Regions from separate parts of the Homo sapiens genome. Here region 1 is linked to region 2. The links come from fine-mapping of genetic effects on gene expression. Tissue or cell type: whole blood. Region 2 holds a variant in brackets; the other region holds the start of a gene. All regions are shown on one strand. Distances are from middle to middle.

What was found. PIP is the estimated chance that this variant, and not a neighbour inherited with it, causes the effect.
Region 1: VCPIP1 starts here. The variant in region 2 is fine-mapped to the expression of VCPIP1 in whole blood (TOPMed, PIP above 0.99).

What each region holds. Positions count from the first base shown.
Region 1 is chr8:66,662,396-66,670,514 of GRCh38, forward strand. It overlaps VCPIP1 (valosin containing protein interacting protein 1), which reads right to left and starts at 4,836. Exons shown (of 3, transcript NM_025054.5): 1 at 1,854-4,836. The coding sequence starts at 4,563. It overlaps C8orf44-SGK3 (C8orf44-SGK3 readthrough), which reads left to right and starts at 5,201. Exons shown (of 19, transcript NM_001204173.2): 1 at 5,201-5,306. C8orf44 (chromosome 8 putative open reading frame 44) reads left to right here and starts at 5,201. Exons shown (of 2, transcript NR_161217.1): 1 at 5,201-5,306. RefSeq lists enhancers at 3,724-3,783, 4,034-4,553, 4,924-5,433.
Region 2 is chr8:67,640,894-67,648,893 of GRCh38, forward strand. All of the region lies in intron 1 of CPA6 (carboxypeptidase A6), which reads right to left. Among named protein-coding and RNA genes, the nearest start is that of CPA6, 100 kb to the right of the region's middle. The variant G/A (reference allele first, on the strand shown) is at 4,672.

The DNA of each region.
Region 1 (8,119 bases), 980 kb before region 2:
TTGCCGAATTCTGCTTTTCACTTTTTTCAATGTTCAGTGCTGACTGACCATCCATTCCATTTCTGCAGATACAGCCTTTCTTTAGCTGTGTTAATGTCATCTATTTAATTCAATTAAAAAACATTTCAGAGTGCATACTACCTGCTGAGCACTATTATCAGGTTCTGTGCATACAAGGATAAAGGTAAGAGCCACATTCTCAAGAGTCCATCTTCTATTGAGGAAGATCTTCTCTTTCCTGTTTTTGACCTGGGAGATTGAAGGTCTTTTATTTATTTACTTATTCATTTATTTATTTATTTTTTGAGACAGAGTCTCGCTCTGTCGCCAGGCTGGAGTGCCGTGGCGCGATCTAGGCTCACCGCAACCTCCAACTCCGGGGTTGAAGCGATTCTCCTGCCTCAGCCTCCAGAGTATCTGGGATTACAGTCACAGGCCACCTAGGATTTGTATTTAAGTACACTAGCATTCGTATTTAAGTGACCTTGATCACAAGGTCAGGAGATCAGGACCATCCTGGTCAACAAGTTGAAACCCCGTCTCTACTAAAAATACAAAAATTAGCTGGGCATGGAGGCGTGGGCCTGTAGTCCCAGCTACTTGGGAGGCTGAGGCAGGAGAATTGCTTGAACCCGGGAGGTGGAGTTTGCAGTGAGCCGAGATGGCGCCACTGCACTCCAGCCTGGAGACAGAGCAAGACTCCATCTCAAAAAAAAAAGAAAAAAAAAAAAGAAATATATAAAGTGCGTAGGACAGTTCCTGACATACTCCCCAATTCAATTACTATGTCTGGCAAACTAAAATCAACAATTCCGGGTTCTAAATTTGTGCAGGGTTTTTAGATCCCCTATTTACTACTCCCCCAGATAAGCCAGGAGTAGTATTCATTTTGATAGATTAAGGCCCAAATCACTGCCATATAGTACTATCAGAAAACAGAATCAAAACCCAGATGACTTTTCTCGTTGAAAGCTTTAATCTCAGCAAAAATAAAACCCTTCCAGTAACTAACACATTTAAATTTTACTTCATACTTTAAGACTTAGTAAAGCATACTAAGTTATTTCAAAACAAAGACTAAGCAAATATAGACACTGTAAAAAGTACACCATTGAACAGTATCCCAAATCATCTAAAGCTTTAAATTACACATTTGGTTAATATATTTTTCTTTAATTTATGCTGATTAAAAACAAATACTTCTTTACACCATTACCATCCATCTCTGTTTATGTTTCTCATGAACTACAACTTATAACAGTTCATTATAATTGATGGCAAAGACTTGAGTAGTGAAATTACTTAAATACAAATCCTAGTGTACTTACATACAAATCCTAGTGTATGAGAAAGAAAAATGTGATGAACTGGGAAAGGAAGAAAATGAAATGTAAGAGACTACTAGGTGGGAGTGCAGTGAGAATATAAACACCAGAAACTGCAATTCATCAAACAGGAAGTGCTGAAATCACATGACATACAGGAAAATAAAAATTAAAAATAAATGAAAAAGGGGCAAGGTAGGCAGGATCAATAGAGCCTACCAAAAAATTTAAAACGCTTTAAATAAATACAAGTCTGTTTTTTAAAAAGCAATTGCAAGAATAAGATATATTTAAATAATCTGTTGACTATTATTGAGGGACTACCTTAACTTTCTATTTTCCTAATAGTTACTCAATAATCCTATTAACATCTATCAACTGTTCAAAATACTAAAAATAATTCTCTCCTGAAATATATAATTAAAAACTTACAATGGCTACAGATTTCTTTTCCCCCAAAGATAACAGGAAAACTCAGTGTATTATATTTACAATTAAGATATACCATCAGAATTAAATTCATCTTACCCATTAATGTTGCTAAAAGACACAAGGAGTACATTTCTTTTTCAGCTTGCTCCTGAAGTTCCTTAGATGACAGTTTACCAGTAACAGCAATATCTTCTTGTTTCACAGTGTGGGCTGAGTGTGCTGCAGCAGACTGACCACCTTCAGCTTTACTTTTTAGAATTTCTATTGTAATTCTGTCGCCATGCTGTAAAGGAACTGGTTCCTTTTCCATTCCTGCCTGTGGTGGCATTAACTCTTTAGGAGGAAACCCGTATCGAATACACTGTAAATATGGAGGAATGTTGAATTCTCTGGCTATACTTTCCTGAAGTTCAAAAAAGGTTGTTGAAGACTTAAGGGTAACCATGGACTGTCGTCCATCATTAGTTGTGATTCGGATCTTCTTCTCCTTAGAAGTTGTCGGTGAATAGGGAGCCTTGGTAGGTGTAGCAGGTGCAGAGGATGGACCATCACGAATGGTACTGGGAGAAACAGTCCTGGGTTGCCCTTTTTGTTCTTGTTTTAACTTCTCTGTTTTCCGTTTCTGCATTACAGAAGCCTGTTCCGTAATATTCTGTTGAATAGTTCTTTCAGTTTTACTCATGTTTAACTCCTCCTTGTGCAAAGTTTTTGTTTTCTGTCCAGTAAGAATAATTTTAGTTGGGAGCTGAGACTCTGATTCTTGTCCTTGAACATCTCCAACTCTTTGGGCGTGAGCACCATCTATATTTACAGGAGTATAATCATCGGGATTCTTTTTGGCAGTCTGATGCAATATAGTGTGGACAACTTTCTGAACTAGGATTTCACTCCCAAATTCACCTGGAAAGTGCTTGGTAACAAGTTTCATTGCAACATCGTAAACATTACTATTCAAAGATGAATCACTTTCATACTGGAACCAATATACTGTTTCTCTGACCACTCTTCCACCCCATTCTAAAGTAATAGGGAAAGCTTCTGGTAGATTGTCATACTCCTTACCATCCCAAAAGTGTTTGAATCCACAACCACATTTGCCACCAGTGGACCTAGAATTAGTTCTGTCTCCATCCAAATACACAATAGACCCATCTCCTCTGACCTTTCGCACAGATGTGCCATGGCACCAATTACAAGCTGTTAGGTTACTCATTCCATAGTCTGGTACCAGAACATCTTTCACTGAATCATATGAGCAAACCAAATTGTTCAAGGGAAAGCTGTAATTTTTGTCAGTCCTCAGCTGTCCATGAGTACTTTTTGCCAGGTTATACAATTTCCCTCCAGGAGCCAACCACTCTGGAGGAACATGAAGTTCAGAAAGGGCACCACAGAGCAAACATTTGTGAAGGCGATTATCCATTACTGCTTTTTTAGCAGCTGCTGTGACTTCCTCAGGCTGAACTCCTATCACTCCAGTCCTTCTGTAGAAATACTGATGGACATCAGCAACCAAACTAGGATGGATACCATGTTTGTCCATAAAGACTTCTTCCATAGCAGCAACAAGCCTAAGTAAGTATTTATCTTGCAAACTTCTGTCACCTCCAATAACACAACCACCATCCTCTTCAAGTTTTATGTACTTTTTAATAAGGTCCTGAGGCACACCCCATGCTTTAGGAAGCAAATTCATAGGCAGTTTGGGCAAAGCAGCCCCTTTTATGCCTACCAAGGGGATATAATGGTTTCTACCGGAGCTGCTCCATGCAATACAGATTGGTTTGTTCAAATGACCATCTTTCCCAGTGCACTTCTCTGCAGGGATGAGCCCAGGTAGAAAGGTGGCTGAATAATCACCAGAGCTTCTCATGCCACTGAGGGAATCTAACAGAATAATAGGACGATGTAGCACATTGGCAAGACCAAATATGTGGATATTCCTCAGGCCCAAGGGAACACCCTCAGGTGGTACAAACAGAGGGTCACACTCATTGATAATGTCCTCCCACTCAGCAGCATCAATGAAGTCATGGAACAGAGCTTGATATCGGGCCAGGTGCTGCTGAAAGTGCTGTTTAAGATTCTCTCTTAAGGCATGCCAGAAGAGCTCTCGGCCTACTAGAGCCCGAGACACAGCATGCACCAAGCAGTGTCCATCCCCGTCCACATGCACTGGAATGAGACATTCCTGGCTTTTATTGGCCCGCTTAATGTCCTCCAGAGTGTCATGCAAATACAGGAGGCTTCCGGAGCGGTCCTTGCCATAGCCCACAGTGTTAACATGCTCTGGTTCTATGAGGAAGGCGCGGTCACCCAGTAAGGCGCAATCGAACAGTTCGCCCTGGTTCATGTCCCGGAGAAGCTTGGCCCGGCCTGTCTGTTTGTCCATTCCATAGCGAGCTAATATGGGCGACAACAATTTGCAGTGATAGTTGGAAAGGCCCATCACCTTTACCAGTTCCGTGTTCTTCTTGGGTGCCCCCGTAACCCCGAGCAGCGCGTTCCGCAGCAGGTTGTGTAGCACTACGTCCGGGTCGGTCACCTCCTCAACCCCCAGCAGCTGTTGCTGCTCGTGCCGCTGGCCGCACTCGGTACACTCGATGCTGACAGAACCGGAGGCCGGGAAAAATAGACGCGCCTGACACTTCGGATCCGGGCAGCTCCCGGAAAGGATTCTCCGGTCTCTCCGCTTCAAAAGCCCCCCCGAAGCAGCCGCCGACGCCAAGGACGACGGAGTCTGTGGAGCCTCAGGGGGAGGAGGTGGCGGCGGCAACGGAGGCGGCGGCGGCGGCGGCTGAGACATAGCTCCTGGCTCTCGTGTCTCGCTCCGCGTCCCAGGCGACCCTCAAAAGCTCATAGCCCAGACCCCCACCAACCCGACTCGGTCCAGTCCAGGCCCAGGGCGAAGCACTTTCCTTTCCCTACCAGCTCTTCCTCCTCCTAAGCGAAGGCGGAAGCGCCGGACGTTGTTTCTCTTCTTACTTCTCCACTGCCGTAGCCGTTGCCCCGAACGTAACGGCCACCACCCCACCCCGCACTCACACTCACTCACTCTCGCTCTCTCTCCCTCAGACACAGACATACACGCCCTCATTGAGTGTGCGCAGGCGCAGCTTCCGCTCTGCCCTCTGGGAATTAGAGTCTTCCAGCCTCTGTGCTGGCCATCAAGCCCTAGGATCTTGAGTCCAGAAGGAACTACAAGTACCGTGAGGCCAAGCGGTTCAGCGCTAGAGGAGAGGAGGAAGAGGACGGCAACAGGAAAAGGGGCGAAAGAAAGATGGTGACTCGCGTTGCCTGCCGGTAGTTGTAGTTTTACTGGGCTCTCCTTCGTCGTCTTCCCCACTCTGCAGCCCAAGGCAAAGAGTCTGAGAGACCACATTTCCTAGGATGCCGTGCGGTGCGTCTAGCTGCACTTCCTCCTTAGGCGGAGGGGAGGATTCAGGGAAGCTTGGTTAAAAACAGTTATGGCAGTGGGAGTCGAAGCGAGGGTCTGAAGTTCACGACTACTAGAAGGGGAGGGGAGTGGAAAGGCTCTCAGTGAAAAAGGTACAGTAAATAAATGTCCAGGGATATTGGGGGCTGGGAAGTTGAATAAATGGTCTAATCTAGGCTGGAGGCCATAAGGGGGAAAACAGTTGATTCTCGGAAGCTCTGCCTTCTCCCCCTCTCTAGTGCGAATCACTGAGGCGCCATTTGATTTCTCGTTTCCTGCATGTTTTGGCAGTTTACAGTGCAAATAACGGTACCTTGGATGTCTGTAGAGTTTTGTGTGCATATACAAATTCTCTTAACTAGGTTTAATTTCATTTGCTCTTTACCACCCTACTCCCCAGAGAATAATAAGAGCCATCATGTGTTAAGTTCTTAATATGTGTCTGGACAGCATTTGCATAACACGATATCATTTGATCTTAAAAAATAACCTTCTTAGGAAACAGGCCCAGAAAGGAAATGACTTGCTAAAGTTCACGCAGCTGATAAGTGAGTGGATAGACATTCAGATCTCAACCTGTCTTCTTTTTACAGATCAGGACATAGGCAGGAAAGGTTAGGCCTGTATTACATAGAATAGTAACTAGCATTTGCTTACTATTGCCTTATAGTTTACATATTTAATAATATGTTCACATGTATCATCTCATCCTCACACCAGTCCTGTAATACCTTTACCAGGTGGTGTTGACTTCATTTACAATCAGGGAAACTGAGACTAAAAGGAATTAAGTGACTTGCCCAAGGTCAAGTCACCAGTTATGCTGGATCCCAATCTCAAACCTTGAGAGTGATTTTTACGCTGCTGCTTACCAAAAAATCCCGGCCGGGCGCGGTGGCTCACGCCTGTAGTCCCAGCACTTTGGGACGCTGAGGCGGATGCATCACGAAGTCAGGAGATCGAGACCATCCTGGCTAACATGGTGAAACCCCGTCTCTACTAAAAATACAAAAAAATTAGCCGGGCGTAGTGGCGGGCGCCTGTAGTCCCAGCTACTTGGGAGGCCGAGGCAGGAGAATGGCGTGAACCCGGGAGGCGGAGCTTGCAGTGAGCCGAGATCACGCCACTGCACTCCAGCCTGGGCGACAGAGCAAGACTCCGTCTCAAAAAAAAAAAAAAAACCCAAAATGTTAGGCTCAAATCTTTTGCTAGGCCTTAGAGTCTCCTCTTAGTGATGAAGGGATGTTTAATGTTAAGGAGGCAACAGCTTTATTCTTTTTTCACTTGGGTAGGAAACTGCCTCTTCATACAGAACAATATTCATATGTTAATTGAAAGCTAGTATTATTTTTGTACATTCATCCTCTTTCACTTATTACGGAAATTCTTGCTTTCTGGAAGTTTAGTATCACCTTAGGTAAGTGGACTACCTCAAAATTTCTGAAACATTTGGCACCAACTAGAAACATTAGTGAAGTCCATGAGATCATTTGAGTCTTCTGTAGCTGCCCAGGAAACCGCCTGATTAGGTTGTGTGTGTGTGTGTGTGTGTGTGTGTGTGTGTGTGTGTATGTATGTATGTAGAACTTGATGCTTTGAAATGAACCATCTGCAAAATAGAGGCCCATAAAGGGTATTAGTTTTGATGTGCACCTAATTGCTACAATTTTCTTGAAAATAAATATTTGAAAGAGAAATCCTCCATAATGGACCTTAATTACAAGAGAAGTGATTTTTCCTATCTTGGGATATTTTTCTTTCTTTTTTTTTTTTTTTTTTTGAGACAGAGTTTCACTCTTGTTGCCCAGGCTGGAGTGCAATGGCGTCATCTTGGCTCACCCCAACCTCCGCCTCCCAGGTTCAAACCATTCTCTTGCCTCAGCCTGCCGAGTAGCTGGGATTACAGGCATGAGCCACCACGCCCAGCTAATTTTGTATTTTTAGTAGAGACGGGGTTTCTCCATGTTGGTCAGGCAGGTCTTGAACTCCTGACCTCAGGTGATCCGCCCGCCTCGGCCTCCCAAAGTGCTGGGATTACAGGCGCAAGCTACCGTGCCCGGCCGGAGGGGGTATTTTTCAATAAAGTTTTTCTCAGAGAATTCATGCAAGAAAAGTTGTTTATTCTAACAAGTTTGGTGGTAACTACACAGATTGGTTTTGGCACTGATTTTTTATTAACAGTTGAATGCTTTATAAGTAGAGAAATTGGGTATCTCCTTTAAGTGGAGATTATTTTATGCTGTGACGAAAATGTTACACCTGCAGTGAAAGTTTTTCTCATACAGAATCCAAATAATTGAATTAAAGCTTTGTAGCACATGAGATGACAACAGTCTGCAATTCTAACACTGTCAGGTACTTTTATATCTTAACAACACCAGGCCAAATTTTTCTTATTGATGATACATATACATAGTGAAGTAGATTTTTAAAATTGTATTTGAATATGTCATTCTGAACCATACTATGACAAAATAATCACTTCCCACCCCACTGAAGAAATGAGAAGCCTTTTTCTGGCTTGTCTAGATCATTTAATAAGTTTGTAGATGCACTCAAAGTTCAGAAAGAAAGCTAACATAAAGGGGCAATGAAATTAACCATGTCAAGTTTAATATGTGAATTAATTCTTTATTACTAGCACTTAGAAGGCATGGATACCTACAAAGAAAAAAAATTGTTAGGTCAAAAATAGGACATACTGTTTCTTATAAGACCGGAGGAGTGTAGAAAGCCTCTCCTGCTTATGCAAGATCTGCAGGCTTCCTTCCTCTTTTCCTCCCAAATTCCATGATCTTGCCTAATGAAGATTAACTTAACTACCTAATTAACTTTCACAGGATTTTTGTGGGGTAGATAATAGTTCTTGTTTTTAGTAGTCCAGATGAAAAGAATAAGCTGGGCCTCTGACATTAGCTGTGCTGAT
Region 2 (8,000 bases):
CCTTCAGCAGGGTGCTCATGGACTCCTGGGATGCGGCAGGGAGTGAGGTTGAGGCAGCGACAGAGGCTCTGGGCCTGGGAGCACGTCCTGCCCAGCCATGCAAGGGTGCGGGTCATGCAGTTGGCTGCCTCAGGGACATGGGGTACAGGGGACCCACCGCTGCCACTGCTGCTTGTGCAGCTGCTCCTGCTGCCACCACTCATGTCTTTCTGCTGCAGCCGGCATGATGGCAGCGGATGCTCCAGATAGCCTGCCGCTGCCATCACTACTACTAAATTCTGCCATTACAGAGTGAACCTACCAAGATAAAATTAAACAGACAGCTTTGGCTGGGTTTCAGTAAAACATTGTTTGAAAAACAGGTTGGATTGGATTTGGTTGGGCTGGCCTTGGCCTGTGGGCCATAGCTAACAAACACCCTGAGGTGGAGTATAAATATATCATGTAATATTCTTAGGAAATGAAGGAGGGGATCCAAAATATTACTAATAATCAAGGAACTATAAAATGACCAGACTAAATTTCTAGAATTAAATTAAGTAACAAATAAAACTAGAAACTTGATGGACAGGTTAAATAGCAGATTAGATGTACCCAGACAAGGATTAGTGAACCAGAAAGTATAGCTTTAAAAATTATTGAAAGTGCAGTATGGAGTGTAACAAAGGTATAAGCTAAAAAAGAGCAAAGTGTCATGTAAGCTGGAGAGAGTCTATTCTGTTTCTAATCTGCAAACATCATGTTCAGCAGCAAAGTACTCAACACTTTTCTTCAAAGTCAAGAATAAGAAAAGGATGCTATGACCATCGTTTGTATTCAATAGAATTAGTGTAAATAAGAACAAAACATAAAAACTAGTGGAACTGGAAAGAAGGAACAAAACTGCCAGTTTTCATAGATGATACAATTAACCACATAGCAAACTTAAAAAAAAAAGTAACAGTTATAAAACTAGTGAGAGAATTAGCATGGTAAAGTAATATATAATTAAAATTTACATCATTTGAATTTCTATACATTAGCAACATACAGAGATTACATACAAATATACAGTTCTCTAAAATGTAAGGTACCTAGCAATTCATATAACAAAAGATACACAAGTTATTTAGGGAGGAAATTATAAAATTTGATTAAAGGACATTAGGTCGGGCATGGTGGCTCACACCTGTAATCCCAGCACTTTGGGAGGCCGAGGCGGGCAGATCACCTGAGGTCAGGAGCTTGAGACCAGTCCAACATGGTGAAACACCAACTGTACTAAAAATACAAGAATTAGCTGGGTATGGTGGCGGGCGCCTGTAATCCCAGCTATTTGGGAGGCTGAGGCAGGAGAATCACTTGAACCTGGGAGGCAGAGGTTGCAGTGAGCTGAGATCATGCCATTGCACTCCAACCTGGGCGACAGAGCATGACTCCATCTCAAAAAAAAAAAAAAATATTGATTAAAAGACATTAAAGGGGATGTAAACAGAGACACACCATATTCACATATTAGAAAACAATACTGTAAGGATGTCAGTTACCCTCAAATTTATCTATAGATTCTATGCAATTCCAAACAAAATTTCAACTTTTTTTGGTGGAATTGGACAAACTGAATCGAAACCATAATAGAAGAACAAAGAATAAGAAACAGGCAACGCACTTGTGAAGAAGAAGGTGAGCAATTCTTGTCCTACCAAATATAAAGACTTAGTATGAAGTTATAGTAATTAGGACTGTGGAACTGGCATGAGGGTAGTCCAATATATCAGAAGCAGATCCTTATGTATAGAGAAACATGATCCATGACAGGGGTAGTATGGCAGATCAGCAGGGAAAGGATGAACTCTTTCATAAATAGAACTGGAACAACTACTTATCCATGTGGGAAAATAATTAACTTGGGCCTTTATCTCACACACACACACACACACACACACACACACTCCAAGTCAAAATGGATTAAGAATTCAACTGAAAGGCAAAACCTTAAAAGATTAAGAAGAAAACATAAATTATCTTTATGACCCTGGGATAGGGTAGTATTTATAAAACAAGATGGAAAAATCATAAAGATTAATTCAATTATATTAAAATGAGGAACTTTTCATGAAAATATTCCATAAAGTCAAAAGGCAAGCCCTAGAGAGGAGATATTTAAAACATATAAGCAGAAGATTAGTATCAATATGAAAAAGATGCATTACCTAAAAAATGTACAAAATATATCAACATGAAATTAACACGAAGCAAATGAACAAAAATATGAATAGATGCATATCATCCTTAATAAGCAGGAAGATGCAAATTAAAACCACAGGAGACATCATTTCACAACTACCAGTTTCTCAATGGAATTTCCACAGCACCAAGAGGTAGGAGAGTCATACAGGAATCGCAGCTTTATGTCATAATCACAAAACTAAACTAGAAACAACCCAAACTTTTCTCAACAGTAGAAAACTAAACTGTACCTCTCCAAAAAATGGAATACTATATAGCAGTGAAAATAGATGAACCACAGATATCATATATCAACAAGGATGAATCTTGCAACCATCCTACTGATGATTAAAACAAGTCACAGAAGAATACATAATGTATAATTACATTTTTATAGATTTCAGAAGTGACTATAAGATTTTAGGGATACAAGTATATATGGTAGTTTTTTTTTTAAATCAACTGAGCAATAAAAACAAGGCTACCGGTAACCTCAGAAGGAAGGGGAGAGGGAAAGAGAGATGTGATTAAGAAGGAAGTACACATGGGAGGATTCAAATACCTTGGCAGTGTTTCACATTTTTAGCTGAGTGGTGGACATATAGGTGTTTGTTGTATAATTATTTGTTAAAACTTGCATATATATTCATATGTACTTATTTACATATGAAATTTCATCAAAGAGAAAGAATGACCTAGTACCGGTAGAAAATGTAGATTCTCAGGCCCCATCCCATAAATTTGAATTCAGTAGGTCTGATAAGCATCCCAGGTGATTCTGAGGTAGCGATGTCTATAGATCACATAGAAAAAAATAGACACTGGCTTGTTATAACAACGTGGGTTTACTACACTGAAAGAATTAACACTTATCCTGAGAAAGAAAATAAGACTTGGTTGAGCAATGGAGAAAAAGAGACATCTTCCACTCTTCATATCACAATGCAGATTGAGGGGGGTTGGCAGTACCTTAAAGACCGCATGGTTGCCATTCTAAACTCATTTCATTATTGCTGTCTTATTTTTTTTTTTTTTGAGACAGAGTCTCGCTCTGTCGCCCAGGCTGGAGTGCAGTGGCGCCATTTCGGCTCACTGCAAGCTCCGCCTCCCGGGTTCACGCCATTCTCCTGCCTCAGCCTCCCGAGCAGCTGGGACTACAGGCGCCCGCCACCACGCCTGGCTAATGTTTTGTATTTTTAGTAGAGACGGCGTTTCACCATGTTAGCCAGGATGGTCTCGATCTCCTGACCTCGTGATCCGCCCGCCTCGGCCTCCCAAAGTGCTGGGATTACAGGCGTGAGCCACCATGCCCGGCCATTATGGCTGTCTTGGCTTGCAGGGATGCCCTGGGTAAAATAGCAGGGTGTGTGTGAGCTTGCATAACCCCAAAAGCACAGTAACTCTAACATGTGAAGTCCTGGGTTCTGTGTGAATAGAGGCAAATTCCAGACTTTTTGCACAGGCAGAGCTCTTACAAGCATGTTCTTGCTGTTAGATATACATTCAGTTCTGTGCACCGGAACTTGAAGAGGGATTGCAGACTGTGGGGACTTTTAGGATTTGGGAGTAGTATTTTCCCAGATTGATGAGCAGTGAAGAAGGGGACAGACTCTTGTTGGCTTGCACATGTCAGGAGCAATACCACATGGCCCTAACAGCAGCAAGGGCCAAAGGGAACCAGGCTTCTTGGCCCAGCTGTCATTAAGCTGTGGTACTCACACCCCTTGGGGTATGTGGAGACTTTCCGAGGGGAATAAGGAAACTGATCTTTTCAAGGCAGTGAATTTCCAGTTCTTTAGCATTCATACATACTCTTGCCTAAAACACACGTGTCTCAGAATGCACCTATAGGTGAGGTTTTGTTACTCTACTTCTACGATCCTACCCTCATCCTTCACAATCACACCCCTAATACTTTTCAGAATAAAGGCAAAACTTTCCTCTATCCTATATATTACTGTAGTGCCTTGCTCTGAGGGTGAAAAATTCTCAGGGGTATCAAAAAAAGCAATAATTAAATGAGGCACCGCAAGCCTGAGGTAGGACTTCATGTCTTTCTCTGCCATCATATCACATTGTATCATATATCACATCAGATCGTAAGGTTAAGTATGGTATTAAAAATAGGACGGGAAAGTCTATATTCAAATATATCATGTTGAGAGGAATGGGACTTGATAATTTATATCTAACAACCTCACTTTTTCTGTCACCTATTAACAACAAAATGCATTGCTCCTGAAGGTGAGTGCCTTAAGAGTGAATGAGAGAATCGGTAAAAAAATGTTGAAGATCACGGCATGAATTTCATTTAGGCAACAAATGCAGGACAGAGCTTTGTATCTTATCTACTGGCATATCCTAGAATTCAATTTAAGAAGGAAAAGGGTTGTGAAGGGGCTGTGTATTAAACAGAAAAGTATAAATTGAAAGATGAAGGCTGATTTTCCTGACAGAAAGTAA[G/A]TGATTGGGCTGACTAGTATAATAATGAAGTTTGTCTTTGCCAATTAAACGATATAACACATGGTTTCCTAAATAAGCTATATTTGCAGCTTCAAGGTTTAGAGAAAAATTATTTTTTAAAGCACGTAATACCTTTTTGTCAAATATTATTGTGTTGGAACAAATATAATGATGTCAATATTTTAATTTTCCCAGGTCTTCTGATCTTATCAAGTTAAACAAAAGTAGATAAGGGATACATTATTTTCCAGATTTCTTCTTGAGGGACATGAGTAGAGAAGTTGGGAAACCACTTTCTTAGCTGTCTGTACTGGTTTCTAGTTCTTTCTTTGAGAAGATGGTAATTCCTCTTGTTACCCAGTGTGATGCCTACCTGACCTAGGTGCATTTCTACCCTGCCTTAACTCTGCTTATCTTTAGGAAAGAAAATGCCTGAGATAAAAAGTTCTCTCTCCTGACCAAAATGGCTAAGACTGGTGGGATCCAAGATGACAGCCCACTTGATCTCTGAAGAACCTCTAACTTCATTATAGTCTGATCTCTCTGCTATGTAACACTGCAACCAGCACCATGACAGGTGACAAACACCATGAGAATGACTGGAAGCAACCATAAAAAGACAAAAAGGCAGGCAGCACTCCAGTTTCTAGGAGTTCTCTACCAACTCTCAGAAAAGACATGAAGATTCCTCCCCTTTCTTTTAATGCTCAACCCCTTCATTAAAGATGCCCTGTATTTCCAGCTTCCTGGCTTTCATGGGCTGAGAATTTGATTTTTGAACCAAGCTTCTGCTTCTCAATCCTATGGCCATCAAATAAAGCCTGCACTGCTAGACATTCACTTTTGGTTTTGCCTATTGGCTTCATGGGATCGAACAGGGAAATACCCCATTTTTGGTGGGGGAACGACTTTGTTGGTAACACTCCAACCGAGCAAACCTCTCTGGAGGTGCTGTGGAGTTGTCAAGGAGAAGATCTTGGGAGAGAAAAAAGACATCACTGTTAACAGGTGAGATAATGAATAACAATTATAACATCATTTTAGGTAGTGATGAGGGTCATGAATAAGATAAGAGGTAATTTGATCATAAGTGGAGTGGGGCAGATGTGCTAATTCAAATTGGGTGGCCATGGAAGGATCCCATGAATCAATTTTTGAAATAAAACATGGATGGTAAGGAGCCTGCAGGGGAAGATTTGAGGGAAGAGGGCTCCAGGCAAAGGAAACACAAGCGCAAAGGCCCTGAGATGGAATAGGCTTGCCCTGTTTGAGGACAGGAAGACAGTCCATGTTTCTGCAGCTGAGACTGGAAAGAGGCAGTGTTAGGGAGGGAGGCAGGCCCTATAGGAAGTTTGGCTTTTATTCTTAGCACAATGAAAGCTCTTAGAGAGTTTAAATCAGAATGATATCTAATTTATAGTTTTAAGCTCACTCTGGCTGCTATGTGGAAAATGGATTACAGGGAAAGGGAAGAGAAAGGGGAGAGTAGGGATGATCAGTTAGGAGACAATTGACACAGCCTAGGAGGAAAATGGCTTATCTAAAGAAGTAAAAGAGAAGGCAAGATCTAGGATCTATCAGAGGGAGAACCAACAGGGTCCACTGCTGAATTTACATGACCACAGGAGAGGGAGGAAAAGAGGAGTTACAGAGGATGTATGTTTCAATGAGTTTGAGAACATTGGAGCCAGGTTTGACAGCAAATATCAAGCTCCTTTTCCTTTTTGGGTATGTTAAGTTTGAGATGCTATTAGACAATGATAGGATAATCTTTTTTTTTTTTTTAAATTATTGAGAGACAGGGCCTCACTATGTTGCCCAGGCTGGCCTTGAACTTCTGGATTCAAGCAATTCTCTTGCCTGAGCCTCCCAAGTAGCAGGGATTACAGGTGCATAACACCATGCCTGGATTTGACAGGATAATCTTGGATATGTTAATTTGAGGTGTTGCAGCTCAGAAACCAATGCCACAAAATACGATGCTTTGATATGCTGAACTGAAGAAGCAGCCTCAAGGTCTCTTAGACCTTCCCTGACTCCTGTCTCTCAATTGTCTCCCAAAGAATGTAATGAAATTGTTCTCTGAAGTTCCCTTATCTGCCTAAAGTCTGGACGCAATAAAGAAGAAAACAATTACCTGTGGTTCTTTCTCTGAGTTTTCAATAACGGATCTTACATTACAGGAAGAAAGGCTGAAGTCTGTCAATGTACCTGGAGAGACTTTTGTCACAAACCACTGTCTGCTCTATAGGCCCAACAGAGTATGTTCCAGGCCATTATATGTTCTTCAAGCCCACTGAATCCCCCTAAAAATCATTTACTACCCCCCTAAAATCATCTACATCTATCTCCATTTTCCCTAAGAAGTAGGGTATAGAAGCATCTGTATCCCACTGGGATATTGGGTATCACTCTATGATCTTCCCCTGTGAATGCTAATGAATTTGTATGCTTTTTGTCCTATTAATCTGCCTTTGTCAGTTGATTTTTTTTCAGAGAACTTTCAGAGGACAAAGGGGAAGTTCCTTTGGCCCCTATAGGGGGCTTAGGAGGAAGTTAGGGCTGGAGATATAAATTGAGGAGTCATCAACATATAATTCATCATTTCAGTTTTATACTCTGCCTATGTACCGCAGAGACTGTTTAGAGAATAGATGAAAGATCAGAAATAGTATTCAAATTTCCTAGATTAGGTTTTTTTTTTTTTTTTTTTTGCTAGACCTTCTCTTTTCTTAGTTATTCCTTCATTCCGTGTATAAAATTAGTATTTACATTTTCAGTCAAAATCCTTTGAGGAATGAGAGAGAAGGGGTAAAGAACGGCATTGCTAAGCCTTTAGGCCCAACACAGAAGGCTGTGCTGCATCATACTGCCAGCTCCAGACTTACTCAGCTCCAAATTCAAGTCTTGAGCAAATGGAGCATAAGTCACGTCTGGAACCCTCATTGCAAAGCAGCTTGGGTTTTGGTAGCCTCTGCTGGCAAGAAAGGCCCAGAAGGAAGAGGTTGGAATAGTTTCTGAGTAAGCCAATACAGGGTCTGCCACATCGGTGAGAAAAATGGGAGTACTAATTTCTGTGAGGTTTTAACTCTACCAGAGATTTTAAGAATTTTTATTTGAAACTTTTCATGCAGAATTTTGTTTTTCTTTTGGTGTGTTAAAGGGATAAAGCAGCTACAGAAAGCTGTGGAAAAGTTCCATTGGAAGCTGTGAGCCAGATTTGTAAACTAGCCTTTTATTTGTTAACCAAAAATAAGAGTTGGTTGAAATGACTGTTAGAATAGAACTGGGGAATATCATCAATGAAACTGGGAAAACAAACCAGGCTC